Linked DNA regions of Homo sapiens. The protein of the gene in region 4 interacts with the protein of the main gene of each other region in a pairwise test. Each region holds a gene or a part of one and is shown on either strand. Other genes may lie near its edges.

What was found.
Region 1: the proteins of GTF2B (region 4) and GOLGA6L9 interact in binary tests that used the Homo sapiens proteins (3 or more experiments, as listed by UniProt).
Region 2: the proteins of GTF2B (region 4) and PBX4 interact in binary tests that used the Homo sapiens proteins (3 or more experiments, as listed by UniProt).
Region 3: the proteins of GTF2B (region 4) and ZNF829 interact in binary tests that used the Homo sapiens proteins (3 or more experiments, as listed by UniProt).
Region 5: the proteins of GTF2B (region 4) and ANXA8 interact in binary tests that used the Homo sapiens proteins (3 or more experiments, as listed by UniProt).
Region 6: the proteins of GTF2B (region 4) and VSX2 interact in binary tests that used the Homo sapiens proteins (3 or more experiments, as listed by UniProt).
Region 7: the proteins of GTF2B (region 4) and ZSCAN1 interact in binary tests that used the Homo sapiens proteins (3 or more experiments, as listed by UniProt).

Annotation. Positions count from the first base shown.
Region 1 is NC_000015.10:82,432,816-82,436,234, reverse strand, and holds part of GOLGA6L9 (golgin subfamily A member 6-like protein 9), read right to left. Parts: exon of another isoform or gene 3,419-3,419; coding exon 3,338-3,418; intron 2,674-3,337; coding exon 2,586-2,673; intron 2,202-2,585; coding exon 1,633-2,201; intron 1,367-1,632; coding exon 1,306-1,366; intron 269-1,305; coding exon 166-268; intron 1-165.
Region 2 is NC_000019.10:19,594,688-19,598,187, forward strand, and holds part of PBX4 (pre-B-cell leukemia transcription factor 4), read right to left. Parts: intron 1-3,500.
Region 3 is NC_000019.10:36,895,792-36,899,291, forward strand, and holds part of ZNF829 (zinc finger protein 829), read right to left. Parts: intron 1-3,500. UniProt on the Homo sapiens protein: May be involved in transcriptional regulation.
Region 4 is NC_000001.11:88,881,568-88,885,067, forward strand, and holds part of GTF2B (transcription initiation factor IIB), read right to left. Parts: intron 1-3,500. UniProt on the Homo sapiens protein: General transcription factor that plays a role in transcription initiation by RNA polymerase II (Pol II). Involved in the pre-initiation complex (PIC) formation and Pol II recruitment at promoter DNA.
Region 5 is NC_000010.11:47,474,116-47,477,615, reverse strand, and holds part of ANXA8 (annexin A8), read left to right. Parts: exon of another isoform or gene 1-373; intron 374-421; coding exon 422-535; exon of another isoform or gene 536-536; intron 537-1,293; coding exon 1,294-1,384; intron 1,385-1,512; coding exon of another isoform or gene 1,513-1,550; exon of another isoform or gene 1,551-2,025; intron 2,026-2,043; coding exon 2,044-2,123; intron 2,124-2,611; coding exon 2,612-2,671; intron 2,672-3,217; coding exon 3,218-3,311; intron 3,312-3,500. UniProt on the Homo sapiens protein: This protein is an anticoagulant protein that acts as an indirect inhibitor of the thromboplastin-specific complex, which is involved in the blood coagulation cascade.
Region 6 is NC_000014.9:74,242,449-74,245,948, reverse strand, and holds part of VSX2 (visual system homeobox 2), read right to left. Parts: intron 785-3,500; coding exon 661-784; intron 1-660.
Region 7 is NC_000019.10:58,040,525-58,044,024, forward strand, and holds part of ZSCAN1 (zinc finger and SCAN domain-containing protein 1), read left to right. Parts: coding exon 1-20; intron 21-3,500. UniProt on the Homo sapiens protein: May be involved in transcriptional regulation.

The DNA.
Region 1 (3,419 bases), on a different chromosome or scaffold from region 4:
TGTCATGGGGGAGAACCCTCCCTGTCCTCTCCCGGTGCAGCCTCCATGCTATCAGTGAGGCTCAGCTCACTAAGATCTTCAGAGAGAGGGAGGGGGTGGGAATCTGGGCACAGTGCGAGCCTCCCCTGCTCCTGCCTGCCCACCCCGCCTGAGGGCTCTACTCACCACCCTGCTTGTCCGCACATCCAAGCTCCTTGTGGGACTGGGGCTCCAGCTACTGGTCTGGCTGCTGCTGCAGACTCGGAGCCTCTTGGCTCTTCAGCTCCACCTGCCGGAAGACCCTGGGCATGAGGACATGTGGTGGCTGGCTTCCAGATTCCTGGCCCATTAATAGGGTAGCGAGGGCACTGTGGGGCTCTGTGGCCTGCCCAGGCCCCTGGCCCCTTGCTCCAGGCCTAAGAGACTGTCTCCCTTGCTTAGAACCCCATGCCTCCTTCCCTAGCATCAAATCTCACGTCCTTTTTCCCAGCATGTAAACTGTAGGCCACAGACTGGTGGAAAAGCAGGCGGAGCCAACCACCATCTGCTAAGTGTGCTACATGCCTAATGTTTCCACGTATTACCTCATTTAATCCTCAGCACCTCTGCAAGGAAAAGGCTAACTTCCTTTTGAAGTTAAAGAAACAGAGACTTAGAGATGCAAAGTAGTTGAATTATGACCAGTGGAACCGAGGCCGGAATCCAGTTTGAATCTAAGGAGGCTTTTTTGTTTTTCTGTTTTGTTTTGTTTTGAGAGAGTGTCACTCTGTGTCCCAGGCTGCAGTGCAGTGGTGCAATCTCAGCTCACTGCAACCTTCATCTCCCGGGCTCAAGTGATTCTCGTGTCTCAGCCTCCTGAGTAGCTGGGATTACAGGCATGCACCACCAGGCCTGGCTAATTATTATTATTATTTTTAATTTTAGTAGAGATGAGCTTTCACCATGTTGGCCATGTTGGTCTCAAACTCCTGACCTCAAGTGATTGTCCTGCCTCAGCCTCCCAAAGTGCTGGGATTGCAGGCATGAGCCACCACACCCGACATAAGGAGCCTCTTATACCACTGTCTCTTCCTCTGTGATTGGGGGGCTCCATGCCTCTAGCTGGGATGATGATGTCCAGACCTGGGAGGACCCCAGGGCTACCCACCTCTAAAAGTCAGAGGGCAGGAAGCAAGAAACAGTCATAGGACTGCCCCGGAGGGTGCTGGGGTCACCTGTCCCCAGGCTGCAGCTGCCTGTGGCCTGGCACCTCCCCTCCCCAGAGGCTGGTGCCCGCCTCCCACATCTTCTTGGATGGGTCGGAGGTTACAGTCTCTTTCAGCTCACCCGACTTCTCCAGCTCCTTTACTTGCTGCTCCAACTGCAGTGTGCTCTTGTTCTCGTTGTTCTGGACAGAAAGAAGCAATCAGTGGCCACCCACTAAAACTGGAGACCCCAGAACTTAGTGTCTGCCTCCCATGGCACCGGGAAGGGTGGAGGCAGGTTAGAAAAATATCCCCTCTCTCCCACAGCCATCAGAGCAGGGCTCTGGCTCACAGATGCCTTTAGAAGTACCATTTCATGTGAAGGCTACAATGCCCCATTTTACAGGTGGGGAAACAAAGGCCTTGAGGGCTAGGGAAGAGGGCAGCCTCCCCAGGTGGGGCAACGCACCAGCTCCTCGAAGCCGCTGCGTGGCTCGGCCCGCTGCTCGTACAGGGCTTCCCACCCCAGCTCCAGCATCCTCTCCAGCTCCCGCAGCCTCTCCAGCTCCCGCAGAGTCTCCTGCTGCCACAGCCTCTCATCCTGTTGCCGAAGCCTCTCCTGCTCCAGGAGCTCCTCCACCTCGTCCAGCAGCCTCTCCCTCTCCAGCAGCCTCTCCTGCTCCTCCTGCCGCCTCTCCTGTTCTAACAGCTTCTCCACCTCTTCCAGCAGCCTCTCCTGCCCTGGCAGCTTCTCCTGTTCACACAGCCTCTCCTCCTGTTCACGTAGCCTCTCCTCCTGTTCACACAGCCTCTCCTCCTGTTCACACAGCCTCTCCTCCTGTTCACGTAGCCTCTCCTCCTGTTCACGTAGCCTCTCCTCCTGTCTCCTGTTCAGGAGACTCAACATCTGATTGTTTTCCACCTCAGCCTGGAGCTGTCTTCCCACACTCTCTAGCTCCTTCCTTAGGTGGTTGGTCTCATCTTGTAGCTGCTCCATCTTAGATGGCCCTGCTGGGGGCTGTGGGGCCAGGGGTTCAGCTGAGAAAGCAAGCAGAGAATAAGGGCCTCTGGATTCTCAAAAAAAAAAAAAAAAAATCCTCCCTTTGGTGCACAGCTCCTCCTCTCAGGCTTCCCAAACTTGGCCTCACTGCTAATGACTCCTCACACCCGGATGGTAGACAATCTTCCAAGTCACTTTCAGATAGAGAGCACTGTGGGTGGCTGACAATGGGCACTCCTCCCTCTTTACTGATGGGGACACTGAGGCTCATGGAGATGACAAGACTTGTCCTCCCCTGGCACAGACCTCTTTCCCTCTGCCTCAAAGCCCTTCCATCCACCCACCTCCCTGGGGCATTCTAAGTCACCCCCACAGCCCTCTAATGCCAGTCCAGCTGCCAGGTCATGCCAGCCCCATCTTACCCGTCTGGTTTTTGAGTTTGAACAAGCTCCTCCCAAGCTTCTGTACCAGATGTATCTCATGCTTCTTCTCCTCCTTAGATGTGCGAACCTGCCCAAAGCAAAGGGGGAAAAGGGTACTGGAGGGAGGGGCTGGTGAACGTCCAGAGACAGAGTTTGAGAAAGGCCCACCCCCCTTCTGCCAGTTTGTGATTTAGAAACGTGCATTCATTCAACAAACATTTACTGAGCATGTACAGGCCAGGTACAGTTCTTCATAGCAGAGATATAAAACAGCAAAGGACAGACAGGAGCCCTTCGCCCTGAGCTTTCCATTCTAGGGGCCTTTAAATCTCTGACTTTCAGAGCTAACCGAGACCTTTGATACTCTCTACCTCCTCCAGAAACACGAGCATAAAGAGGAGAGATGGCTTGTCCAGACTCAAAAAGCAAATTAGGGACTGAGGCAGGGCAGGAATATGGACCTCTGACAACCAGTCAGGCTAGTGCTTCCCAGAGAGGTGACAACCCCAGGGCATGTGTGGCAAGGACTAGAGCAGGGGTGTCTGGAGAAGAGAGAGTCAGCAAAGAGGGCAGTGCAGAAGAGCCATGCTGCATGTTCTGTGCTCTGGGGTCCCTCCAGGTGAGACCTGGGTGCCCAGCTCCCCATTTGCCCTTGGCATCAGGGGCCCCTAGCCCCTTTCTTCAGGGCCCCAAGAGGAAACTGGAGTCCAGGATTGACCAGCTGTAATCAGGGGACCCCACTGGACTCTTACCAGTGAATTGATGTTTTCAGTGAGTTGACTGATTATTGCGGAGCTTGAATCCAGGGCTACTGCTAGTTCTTGGTACTGGCTC
Region 2 (3,500 bases), on a different chromosome or scaffold from region 4:
TCAAGAATGACAGCTTCCTGAGACTACAGTTGATTAAAGTACTTTTTTTTTTTAGACAGGGTCTCACTCTGTCACCCAGGCTGGAGTGCAGTGGCGCAATGTCATCTCACTGCAACCTCTGCCTCCTGGGTTCAAGTGATACTCCTGCCTCAGCCTCCTGAGTAACTGGGATTACAGGCGCATGCCACCACGCCCAGCTAATTTTTGTATTTTTAGTAGAGACGGGGTTTCATCATGTTGGTCAGGCTGGTCTCGAACTCCTGATCTCAGGTGGTCCAACTGCCTCGGCCTCCCAAAGTGCTGGGATTACAGGCGTGAGCCACCGCACCCAGCCTTTAAAAAGTACTTTTTAAAATAGTTTTTTATTATTACTAAATTCCAGATGTTGCATTGCTAAACATCCGCTGTGGGCAGTGGGGAGCCCCCAAAGGCTGCTTCCTGGGGTCAGGGTCAGGGGTGAGCAAGGGACAACTTGGGCTGCCTGTGCCTATTGGTACACATGCCTCAGCAAGTGGTCCTGACACTGGCTTATTTTTATTAGGTGAAAAGTGAAAGGGACCAACATTACACAATTCCACAATACTAAGAAACACGTGACCACAGCCAGTGTCTCCAGGGGGTGGATACACATTGGCTGTGTCCTTCTGAGCGGCTTCCCTCAGCCTGCAGTACTTGGGGCTCATTCGGGTACAGGGCCCCCGCTTGTCCAGCTTACCACACGAATGCTGAAGCACCATCAGGGAGTGCTGCCAGGGAGTTGAGGGCAAATTTGCTTAAAACCAGTTCACCGCTAACAAGAAACTTGTGTGTCTGGTTCCCCAGGAAAGCCTAACCTTTGTGTTTCCATTTCCATGGCATCTGCTCCCCACAATTTAAATAAGGAACAGATAAGACAGGTCATCAGATATTTACATACCCATGAGAGGCATATGAGGTGGGCAGGAAGCCAGGGGCATCACAGCCCAGCATCTGGCCCCGTCGGGAGGATGACCTGGCACTGGGTGTTGGAGACCAACAGGGGGCATATCATGTGGGGGCTGTCAGCAGCAGCAGTCTGCTGGGGGGTGGGGACAAGGAGGGGTCTGCTTGGCTGGGGGATTAAGTATACTTGGGGGTGAAGGAGGTGGGAGATTGATTACACAAGCAAAAGTACTGAGGACAACAGGAGCAGGCTCTCACTGTTGGAGGAAGGAGTCACAAACCTGGGAAGAGAGAAAAATAGTGGGAACCCTGTGGTGAACTAGAATTAAAGATATTGGAGTGGGCCAGGTACAGTGGCTCATGCATGTAATCCCAGCACTTTGGGAGGCCAAGGTGGGAGTATTGCTTGAGCCCAGGAGGTTGAGGCTGCAATGAGCTGTGACTTCACCACTGCATTCCAGCCTGGTGACAGAGTGAGACCCTGTCTCAAAAATAAAAATAAGCTGGGTGCGGTGGATCACATCTCTAATCCCAGCACTTTGGGAGGCTGAGGCGGGCAGGTCACTTGAGGTCAGGAGTTTGAGACGAGTCTGGCCAACATGATGAAACCCTGTCTCTACTAAAAATACAAAATTAGCCAGGCGTGGTGGTGCACACCATAATCCCAGCTACTCAGAGGCTGAGGCAGGAGAAATGCTTGAACCTGGGAGGCTGAGATTGCACCACTGCACTCCAGGCTGGGCAACAGAGTGAGAATAAATAAATAAATAAATAAATAAACAAACAAAAATAAAGATATCATAATGAACTCATGGTTTTTAATATATAAAAACATAGGAAAACAGATGTGAATGTGTGCGCACGTGTGTGTGTGTACACACGCATCTGTAATAACCCACAAATATTCCTTAGCTCTGTGTCCTAAGAGTGTCCAAGAGCAGCAACACCCCAACAGCAATGAGCACATCAAAGGCCAAGATTTACTCTGAAAGGAATCAGGGCTCCTTAGAGAATTGGGTGAAGCAGGCAGAGGCAGAACAGAATATGAGCCTGGTTGGGCACAGTGGCTCACACACATAATCCCAGCATTTTGGGAGGCCAGGAGTTTGAGACCAGCCTGGGCAACATGACAAAACCCTCTCTCTACAAAAAATACAAAAATTAGCTGGGCAACGTGGCTCGTGCCTGTAGTCCCAGCTACTTGGGAGGATGGGGTGTGAGGATCACCCACCCAGGAGGCTGAAGTGAGCCAAGATTATGTCACTGCCCTCCAGCCTGGGTGACAGAGTGAGACCCTGTCTCCAAAAAAAAAAAAAAAAGGCCAGGTGTGATGGCTCACGCCTGTAATCCCAGCACTTTGGGAGGCAGACAGGCAGGCGGATCACCTGAGGTCAGGAGTTCAAGACCAGCCTGGCCAACATGGTGAAACCCCATCTTTAATAAAAAATACAAAAAATTAGCTGGGTGTGGTGGCAGGCGCCTGTAATCCCGGCTACTCAGAGGCTGAGGCAGGAGAATTGCTTGAACCTGGAAGGCGGAGATTGCAGTGAGCCAAGATCGTGCCATTGCACTCCAGCCTGGGCAATAAGAGTGAAACTCCATCTCCAAAAAATAAAAATAAAAATAAATTTACACTGGGGAGGGTTAGGGACATCATGTCCTCATAGCATTTAGGCGAAACTTAAATGTAGATTTAAACTTGAATTTCTCCTTTAGTCACCAGATCTCTTCTGAAGGCTGGGCACCATGCCCACAGCCTTACATATATGAATTCACACAGCCCTCAACAGTCCTCAGTAACCATGAGCTAAGTATTATTATTGCCCCACAAATCAGAGGAGGACCAGGAACAGAGAAAGGTTCAGCCAAGGACCAGGGTCATGCAGCCAGAGGTGGAGGCAGAATTCAGACCCTCTTGCTGTTCTCAACTACTATATATGTCAAGTACACATCAATCTTGCACCAAAACAGTGTTCAGAAAGAAGCACACTTTTGTACAACATATACACACACTTTCCACAAGCCTCAGCAAATATGAAGTGCTATGCTCCAAAGTGACACACAAAATTCAAATAATTGACCTCAAGAGACCAACTCACTCTAAGAAATCAAGTGACACGTTGTGCAGATGACCCTTGGTTTAAATATCTTCATCTTATTTGGTGGCCCCACTTATAAGCTACTTTCAAATTGTTATTAACCTTGACCAAGTGATCAAGGTCAATGGTAGCAGTGACAGGACATATTGACAGCATGTTTTCCCTGACACAATGTGCTGAGGACACACACATTGCCTCTGTGGGACTCTGGCCACAGATGCACAACTTCAGTCCAATCTAGAGGAAACATCAGACAAACCGCACTGAGGGATGTTCTACAAAATGACTGAGCGCTTCTTAAAATGGTCAGCGTCATTCATGGATGACAAGGTCACAGATCACAGGAGACCAAAGAGACATGATGACTAAATACAACGTGGGATTCAGGGCAGAAAAGGGCATTAGGGCAAAAACTGGGGAACTCCAAATGAGGTCTGTAGTTCAGTTAAAGATCATTGTACTCAGCGTAATTTCCTGGTT
Region 3 (3,500 bases), on a different chromosome or scaffold from region 4:
GCCAGAGGATATAAAGTTCTAAATTTATAGGCACTCAACACTGCAGCACCCAGATATATAAGCAAATATTATTAGATCTAAAAAGAGAGATAGGGCTGGGCATGGTGGCTCATGCCTGTAATCCCAACACTTTGGGAGGCCAAGGCGGGAGGATCACTTGAGGTCAGGAGTTCGAGACCAGCCTTCCCAACATGACGAAACCCTGTCTCTACTAAAAATACAAAAATTAGCTGGGTGTGGCCAGGCGCGGTGGCTCATGCCTGTAATCCCAGCACTTTGGGAGGCTGAGGCAGGCAGATCACGAGGTCAGGAGATTGAGACCATCCTGGCTAACATGGTGAAACCTCGTCTCTACTAAAAATACAAAAAATTAGCCAGGCATGGTGGCAGGCACCTGTAGTCCCACCTACTCGGGAGGCTGAGGCAGGAGAATGGTGTGAACCTGGGAGACGGAGCCTGAAGTGAGCCGGGTTCGCACCACTGCACTCCAGCTTGGGTGACAGAGCAAGACTGTCAAAAAAAAAAAAAGAAAGAAAAAAAAATTAGCTGGGCGTGGTGGCATGCACCTGTAATCCGAGCTACTCAGGAGGCTGAGGCAGGAGAATTGCTTGAACCTGGGAGGCAGAGGTTGCAGTGAGCCAATATTGTGCCACTGCACTCCAGCCTGGGCGACGGAACTAGACTCTGTCTCAAAAAAACAACAACAAAAAAAGGTAGACTCCCATAAAATAATAGTACGGGATTTGAACATCCCACTCTCAGCATTAGACAGTTCATCTAGATAGAAAATCAACAGCTTTGGATTTAAACTGGATATTAGACCAAATGGACCTACCAGACACTAACTGAACATTTTATCCAACAGCTGCAGAATACACATTGTTCCTATCAGCACATGGAACATCCTCCAGGAAGAGACCATACGTTAGGCCATAAGACAAGTTATAACTAATTTTTAAAAATTGAAATCATATCAAGTATCTTCTCAGACTACACTAGAATAAAACTAGAAATCAATAACAAAAACTTTGTAAACCACACAAATAAATGGAAATTTAAACAATGTGCTTGCTCATGAATGCCCATTGGGTCAATTAAGAAATTAAAGATCATCAAAGACTACTACAGGCAACTATATGCTAACAAATCAGATAACCTAGAGGAAACAGAAAAATTCCTGGATACATGAAAACCTACCAAGACTGAACCAGGAAGAAACAGAGCAGAAGAACCTGAGCAGACCAATAACGAGTAATGAGATTGAAGCAATAGTAAAATGTCTCCCAACAAAAAAAGCCCAAGACTAAAGGGCTTTACTGCTGAATCCTACCAAAATTACAAATAACTAACCTCAGTTTTTCTCAAACTATTCCAAAAAATGGAAGAGAAGTTAATTCTTCCTAATCCATTCTACAAGGCCAGCATTACCCTGATACCAAAACCAGAGAAGGACACAACAACAACAACAAAAAGAGGTGATATCCCTCATGAACATAGACACAAAACCCCTCAATGAAATACTAGCAAATGAAATCCAATAATACAACAACAAGATAATATACAACGATTAAGTGAGATTTTTCCTGAAAAGTGCAAGGATGGCTCAACATAAGCAAATCAATAAACATGATGTATCAGATCAACAGGATGAGGGATAAAAACCATATGATCAGCTCAATAGATGCAGAGAAACATCTGATAAACTTCAACGTCTCTTCATTATAAAAACCTCTCAACGATTAGGCATTAAAAAACATAACATAATAAAGACCATATATGACAAACGTACAGCTAACACCATACTGAATGGGGAAAAGCCGAAAGCTTTTCCTCTAAGAACTGGAACAAGATAAAGAAGCCCACATTCACCACTATTATTCAATATAGTACTGGAAGTCCTATCCAGAGCAATCAGGCAAGAGAAAGAAATAAAAGGCATCCAGATTGGATAATAGAAAGTCACACTGTCCCTTTACAGATGACATGATCTTACATATATTTAAAAACCTAAAGATGCCACCAGAAATTCTTGGAACTGATCAATGAAATCAGTAAAGTTGCAAGATACAAAATCAATATACAAAAATAAGTAGTACGCTGGGCACGGTGGCTCACGCCTATAATCCCAGCAGTTTGGAAGGCCGAGGTGGGTGGATCACTTGAGGTCACGAGTTTGAGACCAGCCTGGCCAACATGGTGAAACCTTGTCTTGACTAAAAATACAAAAATTGGCCAGGTGTGGTGGCAGGCACCTGTGGTCCCACCTACGTGGGAGGCTGAGGCAGAACTGCTTGAACCCAGGAGGTGGAAGCTGCAGAGAGCTGAGATCATGCCATTGCACTCCTCCAGCCTGGGAGACAGAGCAAAACTCTGTCTCAAAAAGGGAAAAAAAAAGGATTTCTATACATCCACAATAATGAATTAGCTGAAAAAGAAATCAAGAAAACAATCCCATTTATTAATATAATAGCTACAAAAAACAACCTAGAAATAAATTTAACCATGAAGTGAAAGACCTCTGTAAGGAAAACTACAAAACACAGACAAAAGAAATTGAAGACAACAAACAAATAAAAAGATATTTGCATGCTTATGCACTGGAAGAACTATTGTTAAAATGAACATACTTCCCAAAGCAATCTACAGATTCAATGCAATCTACAGATTCAATGCAATCCCGACTGAAATGCCAGTCAGTTTTTACATGAACAGGAAAAAAAATCCTAAAATTTGTAGGAAACCATAAAAAATGCCAAATAGCCAATGCAATCTGTAGCGAAAGAACAAAAGTGGAAGAATCAAACTTCAAAATATACTACAAAGCTGTCGTAACCAAAACAGCATGGTACTGTCATAAAAATAGACCCAAAGACCAATGGAACAGAAGAGAGAACCCACAAATAAATCCATGTATTTATAGTCAACTGATGGTTGACAAAGGTGCCAAGAACAGACATAGGGAAAAGGACACGCTGTTCAATAAATGGTGCTGGGAAAACTGGTTATCCATATAGTGAAGAATGAAACTAGACTGTATCTCTCACCATATACAAAAATAAACTCAAAATGAATTAAATACTTAACTATAAGACCCCAAATTATAAAACTACTGCAGGAAAACATAGGGGAAACACTTCAGAAGAATAGGCAAATATATTTTAGATAAGACCTCAAAGATATTTTCAATAAGGGGCAACAACAAAAAAATAGACAAATTGGACTATATTGAACTAAAATGCTTCTGCACAGCAAAGGAAACAATCAGCAGAGTGAAGAGACCTGTAGAATGGGAGAAAATATTTGCAAACTCTTCACCTGAGAAGGGACTAATATCCAGAATTAACAAGGAAGCAAAAAAACTTAATAGCAGTGCCATAGCGGCTCATAACTGTAATCCCAGCACATTGGGAGGCCAAGTCAGGAGGATCACTTGAGGCCAGGAGTTCAAGACCAGCCTGGGGAACATAGGGAGACCCCCCCCGATCTCTATAAACAGTTTT
Region 4 (3,500 bases):
TCTTCTACACCTGCCCTTGTTTGGTAATGGAATGGATTCTTCGCTTACAAGATATATTACACATTTAACCACAAATATCTATGAATGAGCCTACCGTATATTTTAAAATAAGTGTTGGTTATATTTTATGTTAGAAGAATCAGTATCAAAAAGAAATACTGTCATATATTATAGAAAGTAAGTTTTATTGGATATGTTTTTCAGATCTCAAGATTTAACATGGTGTTTGATACTAGTAAGTCAATAAAAGCAAAAACAAAATTAACTTCCTTTGGTTTGATATAGCAGAAAAGTACAAGCAAAAATTAGGAATTCCAAGCACAAGAAAGCATACAAGTCTTGTGAATTGTATCTTCCTTTTTCAGTTGATTAATCTCCACTGTCTTGCTGGTTAAAGTGGAAGTGAGGCTGGTGGGAAGGCTGAAAATATAATGGGATACTTTTACATTATTTAAAAATGGGCCAGGTGCCATAGCTCACGCCTGTAAACTCAGAACGCTGGGAGGTCGAGGCAGGTGGAACACTTGAGGCCAGGAGTTTAAAACTAGCCTGGACAACGTGGTGAAACCCTGTCTCTACTAAAAATACAAAAATTAGGTGGGTGTGGTGGTGCATGCCTGTAATCCCAGGTACTCAGTAGGCTGAAGTACAAGAATCGCTTGAACCCCGGAGGCAGAGGCTGCAGTGAGCGGAGATCGTGCCACTGCACTCCAGCCTGGGGGACAGAGGGAGACTCTCACTCCAAAAAAAAAAAAAAAAAAAAAAAAAAACGCTACAGAGGTTAGGAGAGCTAAGAAGCTGAAATTATCTTCAATCTCATGTATGTCTGTCTCACTCGTACACATTATCAGTTTGATCTTAACACTGTGGAAGAACTGGAAGGCTCTCATTTAACTGAAGGGTTAAGCAAACATTTTCTGTAAAGGGTGACATAGTAAGTATTTTAGGTTTTGTGGGTCAAGAGGCAAAATTCAGGATATTAAGTAGGTACTTACATGTCTACTAATGAGGAAAATAAAATTCTCTTTTGGGGATCACATTTCACTTAATTGGAGTTCAAAGTTAATGTTCTCTATCAAAATCAATGACAAATGTTCATGTGTCAATGATGTTGTGTTAACAAGATTTTATGTATTTCACTTTCTTTTCGCATAGACAAGTAATGCCAAATACCGATATTAATCCACAAGTGTATGATTTTAATTGAGCATATTTATTGCTTGGAAGGCATTCATAGAATTGTATTACATTCTTCTCCTGATAATGGCCTTTTAACATACTGTTACACTGCAGATTAGTCACTACCAACTGAAGGTTAGATGGAACCCCCTTAACTGTACAGTGAAAACAAATTTTGAAATATGAAAATTTCCTTTGCATTTGCATTCAAGTCTGAAAAACACTGCTGAAAATATAGCTTGAGCCTGGAAAATATATCTGCTGCAAATCTATGTGGTAATGAACATCCTATTTTAACTTCTGACACCACTGGAAGTATATAAAGTATATAAAAGCAATTTGACATTACTTATGATTCAAATGTTAACTTGTGAAATTGACTTTACTGCACTTTATGTTTCACAGAAAAGCAGTATTTTGCCTTGTAACTCTATGATGAATTCATTAAGACATATTAGCAAGTTTGCAGCAAAAGCTAATTTTCAAAACCATCCAGTGTTCAACAGCAGTAGCCGAAGGCAGTACTGATTCAGAAAAATCTTACTCTTGGCCCCGAGTTCAGAAAAATCACAACAAAACTTTGCTACTGCTAAGTCACCAGATTAGTGTGTCATTAAGACAAGTCACCCTAACAGTATTTTGTTAGAAATATTCAGCTTCTATTTCTAACAAAATGTCACAAAACTGGCTGAGCATGATAGCTCACACCTATAATCCCAGCACTTTGGGAGATCAAGGCAAAAAGATCACTTGAGGCCAGGGTTCAAGACTAGTCTGGGCAACGCTGTGAGACCCTATCTGTACCAAAAAAAAAAAATTAGCCAGGGTCCTGCTTGAGCCCAGGAGTTGAGGCTGAAGTGAGTCATGATCGCACCACTGCACTCCAGCCTGAGAAACAGAGTGAGACTCTGTCTCAAAAAAAAAGTCACAGAACTGATATTGATAGTTACGTGCACAAGAGTGAATGAAGTTCATTGTTCACAATTACTGGTTAAATAACACAAGGTAGATTAAAGTCTTCTCTAACAAAGTACTGCTGATGAATAATGTAATAGGCTTTTTAAACACCTTACGTTTTCAATCTTGGCAAATCTGTTCCACTAAGTCTTCTGCTCCACATATTTTTACCCTTATCAGTTATAATAAATCTTAGCAGATTCCACCTCAGGTTATACTGAATTAACACTTTTGCAACTGCTTTGAAGCTATTTTCTCCTATAGCTGTTCCATGTAGACTACTCACTGGAGCTAGTTCTTCTGTCAAGCTCAGCACTGACTTTTTTTTTTTTTTTTTTTTTTGAGACAGAGTCTCACTCTGTCACTTAGGCTGGAGTGCAGTGGTGCAATCTCGGCTCACTGCAAACTCCGCCTCCCAGGTTCAAACAATTCTCTGCCTCAGCCTCCCGAGTAAGCTGGGATTACAGATGCCCACCACCACGCCCGGCTAATTTTTGTATTTTTAGTAGAGATGGAGTTTCACCATCTTGGCCAGGCTGGTTTTGAACTCCTGAACTCATGATCCATCCGCCTCAGCCTCCGAAAGTGCTGGGATTACAGGCGTAAGCCGCTGCACCTCGCCCAACACTGACTTCTTGAATAAACAACTGCAAAGCAGCAATAACATTGATCTAGTCATCAAGAGCCAAGGAAAAATATACCTGAGCTAATTTGCCTTAACTTTTAATTGACTACTGATGTTGCTCCACTGTCCTCAACTCTTCAAGCAACTGTTCTTGGTGAGATGCTAACAGTCTTAAATAAATTTATTTTCTCTGCATACATTTCTTCAGCTGTTGCAATCAAATATGAATTAACCTATCATTGGTAAATGGCTTTCCTTGCTTGGCCAAGAAATAAGCCACTTAGAAACTTTAGTTGCAGCCTCAGTTTCATTCTTTTATTTTTGTGAAAAAATTCTGTTGTGTTAAGATATTCTATTTTACATTATTTTCTGACCATTGTTTTCCTGAGTTAGAAATATTCTGATGAGTGCTCAGTATGGTAATGTCCACGCTTACTGTATTCTTTTAACACAGCTACAGTATCATTGTGTAATAAACACAATGTTTTGCCATCTAATTCAGTGACAAAATAATCCATACTCCACCATGCCTTAAAAGCATGACATTCAAAGTTAACTTTTCTTGTTTTGGTGTGATGGATATGTAATGGTAATAAAAACAAATAAATAAAATAGTGCAGTATGGCAACATATGTGGCGATCAACATGTTGCTGTTATAACTGCATCACTGCAATTAGTATGCTGAGCAGCAGAAAAAAAGTGATGAGAGCTGCACATGTGGTTTCTGTTGAAGCTACT
Region 5 (3,500 bases), on a different chromosome or scaffold from region 4:
GACCTTAGAAGGAGGCACATGTGAGACGAAGTCTTTAATTCAGGCATGCATTCATTCATTGAGTGCCAAGTGACAGGTATTTTATGGTGATGCCATACTCAGAGCTTGCAGTCTAGCTAGCAATACCAATTTCATTTTACTGAGAGCTTATGATGTGCCCAGCACTGCACTGAATGCTGAATTGAGTCACACACAACCCCCTAAGCAACGGGATGAAGCAGGAGCACGTTTCTCTCCGTGTAACCGGTAAAGATACTGATGCTAAGAGAAGCTAAGGAGCTGGCCCAAGAAACCCAGCCAGCACGTGGCAAGGCCCACGCAGAATCCAGCCCAAGCCCCTGGACCCAGCCACCACTCCGCTGCCTGCACTCAGGTGGGCCTGGCTTATGACAAATATCACCTTTCCCTGTTCCCGCATTAGGACCTCACTGAGACCTTGAAGTCTGAGCTCAGTGGCAAGTTTGAGAGGCTCATTGTGGCCCTTATGTACCCGCCATACAGATACGAAGCCAAGGAGCTGCATGACGCCATGAAGGTAACCAGGCAGACAGGGCAGGGGAGTGGCAGGGGTGCTCACATGACTGGGTAGGGGCAATGCGGGGACCGGGAACCTACAGCCCAGAGCTCCCCTTGAGCCACTGTTTGGAATGGCCATATGGGCCATAACTGGGCCCAGTGAGCAGGCAGCCTGCTGCTCAGACTGCACCCAACACCTGGAGTCACTGGTGCCTGATTGACACGTTGAGTGGCCGTGATGAAGCCAAAATCAGTACTTCTCAGAACCTCACGAGCTCAGGTGTACAGTGGTATTGGAAACCCACCTCTACAGTCCCAGGCACAGCCCCTTGGGTTTCCCTTTACCTCTCACTACTCTTTGCTTTTGCAGATTAATAAGGATGGGGACCCAGTAACTATAGTCATTTTGTTTGGAAAGACACTTGCTGCATGGGCACTGCCAGGCATTTTACACCCACGCTCCCTAATCTATCTTTGGCGCAGGGGAGGCTTCTTATTCCTGTTTATGGATCGGGATGCTTAGGCTCCAGGACATGGAGCAGCCTGTCTGAGACCACCCAGCTAAGGAGGGAGAGCTGAGACAGGGCTTCCCCGTCACAGCACTTGCCCTCAATGTTCATCACTGAAGCATGTGATTTTCTCATCACATCCTCCCACTTCAAGTGGGGCAGGGCAGTGAGGTCCTTCCTGAGGCTCAGGCATCTTGAGAAAAGAAGGTGTGGACAGAGCAGAAGGTCATGGCAGAGCACTCCAGCAGGCAGAGGTTTCTGTCCACAGGGCTTAGGAACCAAGGAGGGTGTCATCATTGAGATCCTGGCCTCTCGGACCAAGAACCAGCTGCGGGAGATAATGAAGGCGTATGAGGAAGGTAAGGGGTGGCACAGATGGAGGGGCTCAGGAGTGGCCACAAGCTTTGGCAGCCTGGCAGGGAACAAGGATCAAGAATTAACCTGGGCCACACTAGAAAGGACCCTTTGGGGACTTTTTTACCCACAGGTGCTGAGCACCTACCGTATGCCAAGATCTGTGCCTGATGGTGACACTGAACATGATTCAGACTTGATCTGTAAGCTCACCAGCTCCTCTTACAGGGGAGAGAGGCCTGTGACCAACTAAAATCTCTGCCCTTGAGGACTGTGGTAGTAGGGGGTGTGGACCCCAGGCTAGCAGAGGCCAGTCAGTCCTCCACATCATGTACCTAGTGGGGAGTTTTCCTGGAGGCTTTGGCTTTGCCAAGCCTTGAGATGAAATGGAGCTTGGTTGGCAGCCCCTAGCCTGGCTCTCTGACCTGGTCCATCTTGTGCTTTGAGCTTGGTTGGGTACGCATGTCGCTTCTAGTTGTGAAGCACCACCCAGGCGACAGCCACTTGGACACCCGGGCATTGCATCCATGCCCTGTGCCAAGGACTTTCTTTCCTAGAAGGCTTTAATAAGGAGAAGTATGGGGAACAGGGCTGGAAGGAGGAAAGCAGGCCCCGGGTAGGCTGTGGGCCTCTGCTTGTGCCTCATGGTCCTGTTTCCCTGCAGACTATGGGTCCAGCCTGGAGGAGGACATCCAAGCAGACACAAGTGGCTACCTGGAGAGGATCCTGGTGTGCCTCCTGCAGGTGTCACAGCCTAGGCTCTTGGGAGTGCCTTGGTTTGGGAGTCCCAACAGCTCCACCCCAGGGAGCAGCCCTTGAATAGCGCCACAAGAGTCAGGGTAGGGGCATGGGATAGCCCAGCAGCCAGGGCTCATTGGGTGTGTCTCAGCATGGTTAGAGGGTCCCAACTGCAGAGCCCCCACACCTGTCCTTACTCAGCCATGTGAGAGCATCCTGGAAGCGGGAGGAGAGCAGGTCCTTCGTGCAGGCCTCATGCCAGGCACTTTGCTTACCTTAGCTCACTGAATCCGCCAAGCCTTATGAGGCAGTCCTTACCACCCCCATTGTACAAATGAGGAAACCAAGGGCTGAAGAGAATAACTGGCTTGTCGAAGTTTCCACAGCCAAAGAGCAGCAGAGCCATGCCTGCCCTCCAAGCCCAGGATCCCCCCTGTGCCCTTAATGCTCTGGTCAGCTGGCCTGCCTTACAGAGCCACCTCCTCTGTTCCTAGGGCAGCAGGGATGATGTGAGCAGCTTTGTGGACCCAGGACTGGCCCTCCAAGACGCACAGGTGAGGCTGCGCCCAGCCGGCCATGTGGCCCCACCCCCTGCCATCTGGACTCCGGCTCCTCTGCCCACGGGGGCTTTCTCTGACACTGGGCTGGGACCCACCCAGCTCAGCTCCCTATAGGCCTTTGTCCTGTGGTGTCTGGGGAGGAGAGTGAGGGTGTTGGGAGACTCGGGAGGAAGGAGTGTGACTTGGGGGTGGGGGAGCACTAAAGCTCTGTCCTGGCAGGAACAGCCCATGAACCCGGGGGCGCTAGGCCCCAGTGCTGGACACAGGTGTCCGGGTCTCTGTAGGTCTGCCTGCTGGCAGAGGGAAGTCTGGGGACCAGGCAGTTCCTAGAGCAGCTTGTGGCCCAGGATAGAGAAAATATTCTAAGCCAGAGCTGCTAGAGAAAGGGGAGCTCCCTGTCAGAGACGACCAAGCAGGGGAGCATGCTGGCCTGGCAGAGTGGACAGGGCCAGGCCATGGCCACAGCTCTGGGACTCTGGGGCTCAGTCCCTCACCTCCCTGGTCTCCCTCACTGGCTTATTGTGGGTGTCCCAATGCTAGGATCTGTATGCGGCAGGCGAGAAGATTCGTGGGACTGATGAGATGAAATTCATCACCATCCTGTGCACGCGCAGTGCCACTCACCTGCTGAGAGGTACCAGGGAGGGAGGGGCTGGGGCCGGGGCCACAGGGGGTGTCCTGGCCATGAGCCTCTCCCTCGTGCTTCTGCCTTGTCAAGTCTAGAGTTAGGGAGAGAGCCAGGGAGCCCAGGACTGTTTCCCCAGCCACCAGTGGGAGGTCAGGGCGGCAAATTGATGTGCGATCTCTGATCCGAGACACTGAG
Region 6 (3,500 bases), on a different chromosome or scaffold from region 4:
CACAAAACTGCCCAGGAGAGGAGGAGGGCTTAGTGAGCCACCTGCAGGGCCATGCCCCAGCTCACATCCTAGGCCAAACCTGGGAGAAGAAAAGGAGCAGCAGGTCAGGGCAGCAGTTGCTGGGCTGTGTGTGGGAGGAAGGAGCCTTAGGTGGATGGAGTGGTGGGAAGCAGGAAGAGAAGGGGTAACACTTTCATCATGGGGAGGGGAGGAGAGGGGAGGGAAACAGACTGGGGTCAGGACTAGAAGCCACCTTCCTCTTCACAGCTACCCAGAGGCCTGGGGCACCCTCTGGCCTTGGAACAGACATTTAGCTGTACCAAAGGGACCTCCGCCTCAACAGAGACCCTGCCCAGGACCGGGGGCCCCTCCAGTACTCCACCTCTCATCCCCAGACCCCCGCAGGGTCTGTCTGACATACTCCCCGGGAAGCCTATAGTCTGGAACAACAGCCAGGTCACAACTGGGTGCTTCTCATCCCCCGACAGCACCCACCTCATGTGGCAGGTGTTCAGCTTAAATAGGCTGAGAACATGATCATAGGCAAGCACATGCCCACAGTGGGGCTGGGAGGCGGGGTCATGGGCATCTGGAACCCTGGAGTGGTAGATGTCACCGAGAGAGGGGAGAGTGGAGGGGAGAGGGGCTCAGGGCTGTTACCTGTATCCTGTCTTCCGGCAGCTCCGTTTTCATGGCCAGCATCTCCCGGGCATAGACGTCTGGGTAGTGGGCTTCGTTGAATGCCTTCTCCAGCTCCTCTAGCTGGTAGGAGGTAAAGATTGTCCTGAGGGGAGCAAGACCGAACACTCAGGACCCCAGAAACTAAAAGAGCCTGTCTCAGACAAGACAGAACCGCCTTCCTCTGTGTCTCCTGGGCAGGCCCCGAACCCAGGCTGGCTCAGCACAATAGGACACAAATTCTCTCTCTCTCTCTCTCTCTGTCTCTCTCTCTCTCTCTCTCTCTCTCACACACACACACACACACACACACACACACACACACTTTCTCTCTCTCTTTCACACACACACACACACACACACACACACACACACACACACACACACACTTTCTCTCTCTCTCTGTCTCATAGTTTAACCCTCCGGACTCTTCTTCCTCAAGGCTGAGGGCTCACACTACCCTTCCTGTGTTTGGGGGGTGGCCATTATTTCAGCCCTCAGTGACATTTCACACTGGGAATCTTTCTGGAGGTGCTCTGGGGGAAAGGCTGTCCCAGAAGAAGGACATTCTAGAAAAGCAGAAAGCCCCTCTTCCTCCCAAGCACAGAGAAGAGGGGCTTACCAGATTACTAAATAGCCCAGCTCCACCCAGACCAGCTTCCTGGGCCCCTCTCACAGTCACTAGAGCTGAATTTTTGAATGCCTTTCAAAGTTAGAAGATTCACCGGAAGGTCAAATGCAGCCTCAACCTCAGTGTTTATACAGCAGAGAACTGAATCTCCCACTCCCTCAACTCCCCCCAGCACCCCTTCCTCCTCCCCTGCCCTTCCTCGACATCACCCAGACCTACCAGCCTCCCAGCACTGCCCCGAGCCTTTTCCAGTCCTATTCTGTGCTGACAAGGGAAGGGCCACCTTCCAACCATCCCATACTTGCAAGCTCAGCCACTCACCTGCAGGGGGTTCCATTCGGGCCACCCTGAGAGCCCACAGGCACAGTTCCCCACCCCCAACAGAGCAGTTCATATGGATCTATTTTGTGTTATAAACTGCTTTAAGAATCTGGTAAAAACTACATTCTCTCACCTTAGGAAAATGGGCAAATAAATAGGCCCCAATTTGTAAAATTTTGCCTCCAACATTAGGGGATTCATAGGTCCTCTTTCTTGAATAAACCGCTAAACACCTACTTCCAGACACAAACTCTTCTCTTTTCAAACCTTAATTTCACCAGGTTTTGGGTGGTCTTTATCCTGAAACCTCATTAACAAGCCAACAGGCAATATAGTCCAGCGTCCACAAACTGAACTGGTAGAAATGGTCCAGCCCTTGCCTGGTCCCCTGGGATCAGACTCTGGCGCCAGCACAGGGGTGTAGAATCCCTTATTGCTGGGCCCTCACCCTCGTCTAACACAACCCAAAAGTACAGATTTGAACCTCACACAATCCTTGTGCTGGTGTCCACTTTAATATCTCGGGGGATAATTCAGGGAAGAAAGATTGTGCTCTTTGCAGAAAATGACTGGTTTGATTCTAAATCGTTTCTCCTATTCTCTGGGGGTGGGGGGTGATGATGTGAAATGCTTATGCACACACGAAGTTAATTCTTGAGAATTTTGAAGATCTGCTGCTTTTTCGCTTCTGCCATCTGCTGAAGGGCCCATGGACAGAGCATCAAAATAAACAATAAAGAAATTCAAGTCCTTTCCAAAACCAGGGAAACTGAGGCACAAAGGCAGTCAAAGAGGAGAGCCGATTATAGGTCATGTAGAACCATTCAAGTCTCAGTCCCTACTTCGGAGAGCCCCTCTTCAAAAAACAAAACAAAAACTCAAATCTCCCAAACTTTCCCTAATTCATGCCTCAGAGCTGACACACTTCCCCCATAATGTGACCCAGCCTGTGTTCCTGGTTTATGCAGAACCCCAGACCCTTCAGGCTCCTGTTGTGTCCAGTCTGAAGAGGAGCTGAGCTTTCCCAGTAGAGAGAAAGAGCAAAATCAGAGAGACTCTCACCGTGGCTGCTTTGTCCCCACGCCACCCCCCAAACGCTTTTAAGTCTGGTTTGTTTCTGGGAGATAAAAATAAGCCCATCTCTCATCACCAGATTCCAGGGTCTCTTACCCCAAATCCCCAAATGACAGAAGCTCGAGTAAAATGTATTTTTTCCTAATTAAAACAAGCACTTGAAATCCGTAGCCATTCTCCTCTCTCCAATAACCTTCTCCCTTCATGCAACAGAAATAGAAACCCCAGGCAGTTAATACCCGAGTGTTGGTGAGTTGCTGTTCTGCCCCCATGAAAACCCACCAAAACCCCCAAAGGTGTTCCTGGCGAAGAGAGTGACAGATGAAAACAGACGGTCACTAAGTGCCATGCAGTGAGATGTCCTGATGCGGAAATGCCATTCCTGTACCCAGGGTTTGGGGATGCTTTTTCCAGGGCTCTCCATGCTGTGGGAACCCCTCCCACCCCTCCTGGCACCAGCACAAGGGCAGTTTTGCCGGTCTCTGACCTGCCCTCCCTGCAAGGTCCCTGTCCCTGCCTGGGGAAGATGACAAGATTACCCACCCTGGGACCCGCGTAAGATGGGTGCATAAAAAGTGTTTTAATGAATATTCGTTGAATGAATTGAATGTAAAAAAAAAAAAAAAAGACCAAAGATCAAGACCAAAAAAATTTTTCTTTTTCCTTTTAAAATAAAACAATACAAACTAAACAAATGCAAACAGCTGCCGGAAAAAGAATAGACCGAGATCCGGAGAAACCAAGTCGAAGTTCACCTGCATTCAAGCCAAAACCTATTAGGGCCTAAGGGGTGAGG
Region 7 (3,500 bases), on a different chromosome or scaffold from region 4:
CCCAGAAAGAACCATCGCAGGTGAGCCCGGGGCCCCCAGCTCCGTGCTCCTGCACCCCAGGGCATGCGTGCCGCTTCTGGGACGGCCTCAAGGATGCCCCATCCAAGGACTGTGTGAGGTTGTCCCCAGCGCTCCCAGGAAGCCCGGCCTCCAAACTCCCCGCCTGCCCCACAGATTCCCCAAGCTTCCTGGGGCTCAGTGCTGGGCGAGGGCAGTCAGTGCAGCTGTGTGTTTGCTGTGTGCCTCTGGGCCTCACCCCAGCCCCTCCTGTCCTTTCCCAGCCTCGCAGTTAAGACCCATCCTCCTGTGTCACCCGCACCAGATGCTGCGTGTGTTGAGAAAGTCCTGCTGCCCCGATCATCTTCCCTCAGTGAACCCAGGATTCTGGGCGGGCCCAGAAGGAAATGCTGAGGGCTCCCCTGCAGCTAGACCTGCTGTTGCGCAGGCCTCAAGGCGACGGGAGGGGCCCGGCTCGGTTGGGAGCCAAGCGGATCTCTGTGTGGCTGGAGAGATTAAAATCAGGGGTGGGGACACGCAGACACATGAGAGAAATCCAGGGGTAATGGGTAAATCACAAAAGAACAAAAGTAAGAACTGCTAAGTGAGTAGCATGTGTTCGTATGATCAGGGCTACTGAGTTTGACCACTTTCTGCCTCTGGATCTTGGTATTGGAGCCGCCAAGGGAAACACAGCACGGTCGAACAATGAATGGAGCAAGGTTTTGCTCACAGACCAGAGACCGGGCCAGAGCACCATCTGCCCATGTGGCTGTCAGGCCGGGGCCAGCAGGTCCCTCCTAGAGGGGTCCTGACCTAACAGTGGGGCTGTCTAGGTGCCACGTGAAGCACACGCCTGAGCAGAACAAAGGGGCACACATTGGGAAACAGAGACCTCCACACGAGGCACTACACCCAGCACAAACTGGGGGGACCCCTTATCTCTTGGTAAGGAGATGTTCTAGGCCCAGGACCCACTCTCAGGCAGCCAAGTAACAGGCTGAAAGACTGCACATGTGTGTCTCCCACTGGCTTAGTCCGTTCTGGGTGCTGTAACAAAATACGGCTGGGTGTGGTGGCTCATCCCGGTAATCCCAGCACTTTGAGTGAGGCCTCACGGGAGGCTGAGGTGGGAGGACCACTTGGTCCCAGGAGTTCAAGAGCAGCCTGGGCAACATGGCAAGACCCCATGTCTTAAAAAAAAATGAGCCAGGTGTAGGGGTGTGCACCTGTAGTCTTAGCAACTCTGGAGGCTGAGGTAGGAGGATCACTTGAGCCCAGGAGTTCAAGGCTGTAGTAAGCTATGATCATGTTTCTACACTCCAGCCTGGATGACAGAGTGAGACCCTAACTCAAAAAACATCAACAGCCGGGCACAGTGGCTCACGCATGTAATCCCAGCACTTTGGGAGGCTGAGGCAGGCGGATCACAAGTTCAGGAGTTCAAGGAAGAAGGAAGTAACTTGTGGAATGCTGAGAAAGGTAAAAACACCTTCAAATAAGGAAGAGGAACAGGCTATGACCTAATGCTTGCTTGGACCAGTATAGGCACACCAGGGCAAATATTTAGGCTAAATTGTGGGAGCTAAGAACATAAAGTACATTGATTTTTTTTATTATGGCTAGCAGATATATAAGAATGTTAGCACAGGTCTTTGAATAAATTTTGCTTCTAAGAGAAGTTACTATTTATTCCTAATTAGATGGGGAGGAAAGTCTTTGAAGAGGAACTTCTACTTTACTTTTTTTTTTTTTTAATGGAGTCTTGCTCTGTAGCCCAGGCTGGAGTGCAGTGGCGCGATCTCGGCTCACTGCAAGCTCTGCCTCCCGGGTTCACGCCATTCTCCTGCCTCAGCCTCCGGAGTAGCTGGGACTACAGGCGCCCGCCACCTCCCCGGCTAATTTTTTTTGTATTTTTAGTAGAGACGGGGTTTCACCGTGTTCACCAGGATGGTCTCGATCTCCTGACCTCGTGATCCACCCGCCTCGGCCTCCTGAAGTGCGTGAGCCATCGCGCCCGGCCCTAAAATAGATTTAAAGATCATCATGAGAGCCCCTCTCCTGCACCAAAACAAAGTTTCGTGGGCCGTGGTTTCTGTTTCTGCATCTAACGGAGGCATCTAACCTGGGTAGACCACAGTTGTTGGCCACGGGCTTCCTCAGCCGCTGCCGGCAGATGTGCTTATCTGACTCCCTCTCCCATCCCAGACGCCACGTGGAAACCACAGCCGCGCTCACAGGCCATCCCCTCACCACACGGCAACTCCAAGGACTCTCTTTTTGCGGGGGTCGTAGGTGGGGAAGGCTGCTGAGGTCCTCCCACCCCTCTCCCACCAGGGCCGCTGTGGCTGAGAGGATCCTCGTTGGCGCTGGTTTAGGCTGTGGGGCTCAGCCACAGCAGGGTGCCCCAACGTCCCTGAGCGAGCTGCACTTGTGGAGGGAGAGGCCTTAGGCCTGAGGCCTGGCGCCCGCGTGGAGAGACGGCAGCTCCGGGATCGGGGCGCTGGTGAGCGCGGCCCCAGGCATTGCCGCTGCCAGGGTGCTAACACTGCCTGAGGCACCTCTGCTTTTGAAGTCGCCGGGGATTAGCGGGAGCGTAGGTGAGGGACAGGTGGAGCTGCTCTGCGCGGGGCAGCCCGGCTCGCCAGGAGGCGCTGTGGAGTGGGCACGACTGGCGATCGCTGAGCGCATACAACCGCCTACCATCGGAAGCCTTTTGAGAAATGCTTCCTTAGGCGGTTTCGTCACCGTGCATACATCGCAGAGGGCACTCACACACCTACACGCACAGCCCATGGCTCCTAGGCTACAGACCTGCACAGCACGGGGCTGCACTGAATACTGTGGGCAACGGTAACACAATGTTGTTTGTGGATTTAAACATAGAAAAGGTACAGTAAAAATACAAAATAGAAGATAAAAAACAGTACACTTGTATAAAGCACTTGCCAGGAAGGGAGCTTGTGAGACTGGAAGTTGCTCTGGGTGAGTCTGAGTGGTGAGTGAATGTGAAGGCCTGGGAGGTTATTGTGCTGTGGACTTCATAAACATGGTGCACTTAGGCTACTAAATTGGCAACTATATTTCCTTCTTCAATATAATTTATCTTACTGTAAGTTTTTGCTTTACATTTTTTTTTTCTTTCTTAGACTGACTCTCACTCTGTCACCCAGGCTGGAGTGCAGTGGCACGATCATGGCTCACCGCAACCTCAACCTTCTGGGCTCATGCGATCTTCCTACCTGAGTCTTCTGAGTAGCTGGGAACACAGGCACACATTACCGCACCGGCTAATTTTTATATGTTTTAAAATTTTTTTAGTTTTTGTGTAGATGGGGTTTCACTATGTTGCCCAGGCTGGTCTCAAACTCCTAGGCTCAAGCGATCCTCCCTCCTCAGCCACCCAAAGTGCTGGAATTACAGGCGTGAGCCACTGTGCCTGGCGTAAAAAACTTTCTGACTCTTGGGGCCGGGCGCGGTGGCTCACGCCTGTAATCCCAGCA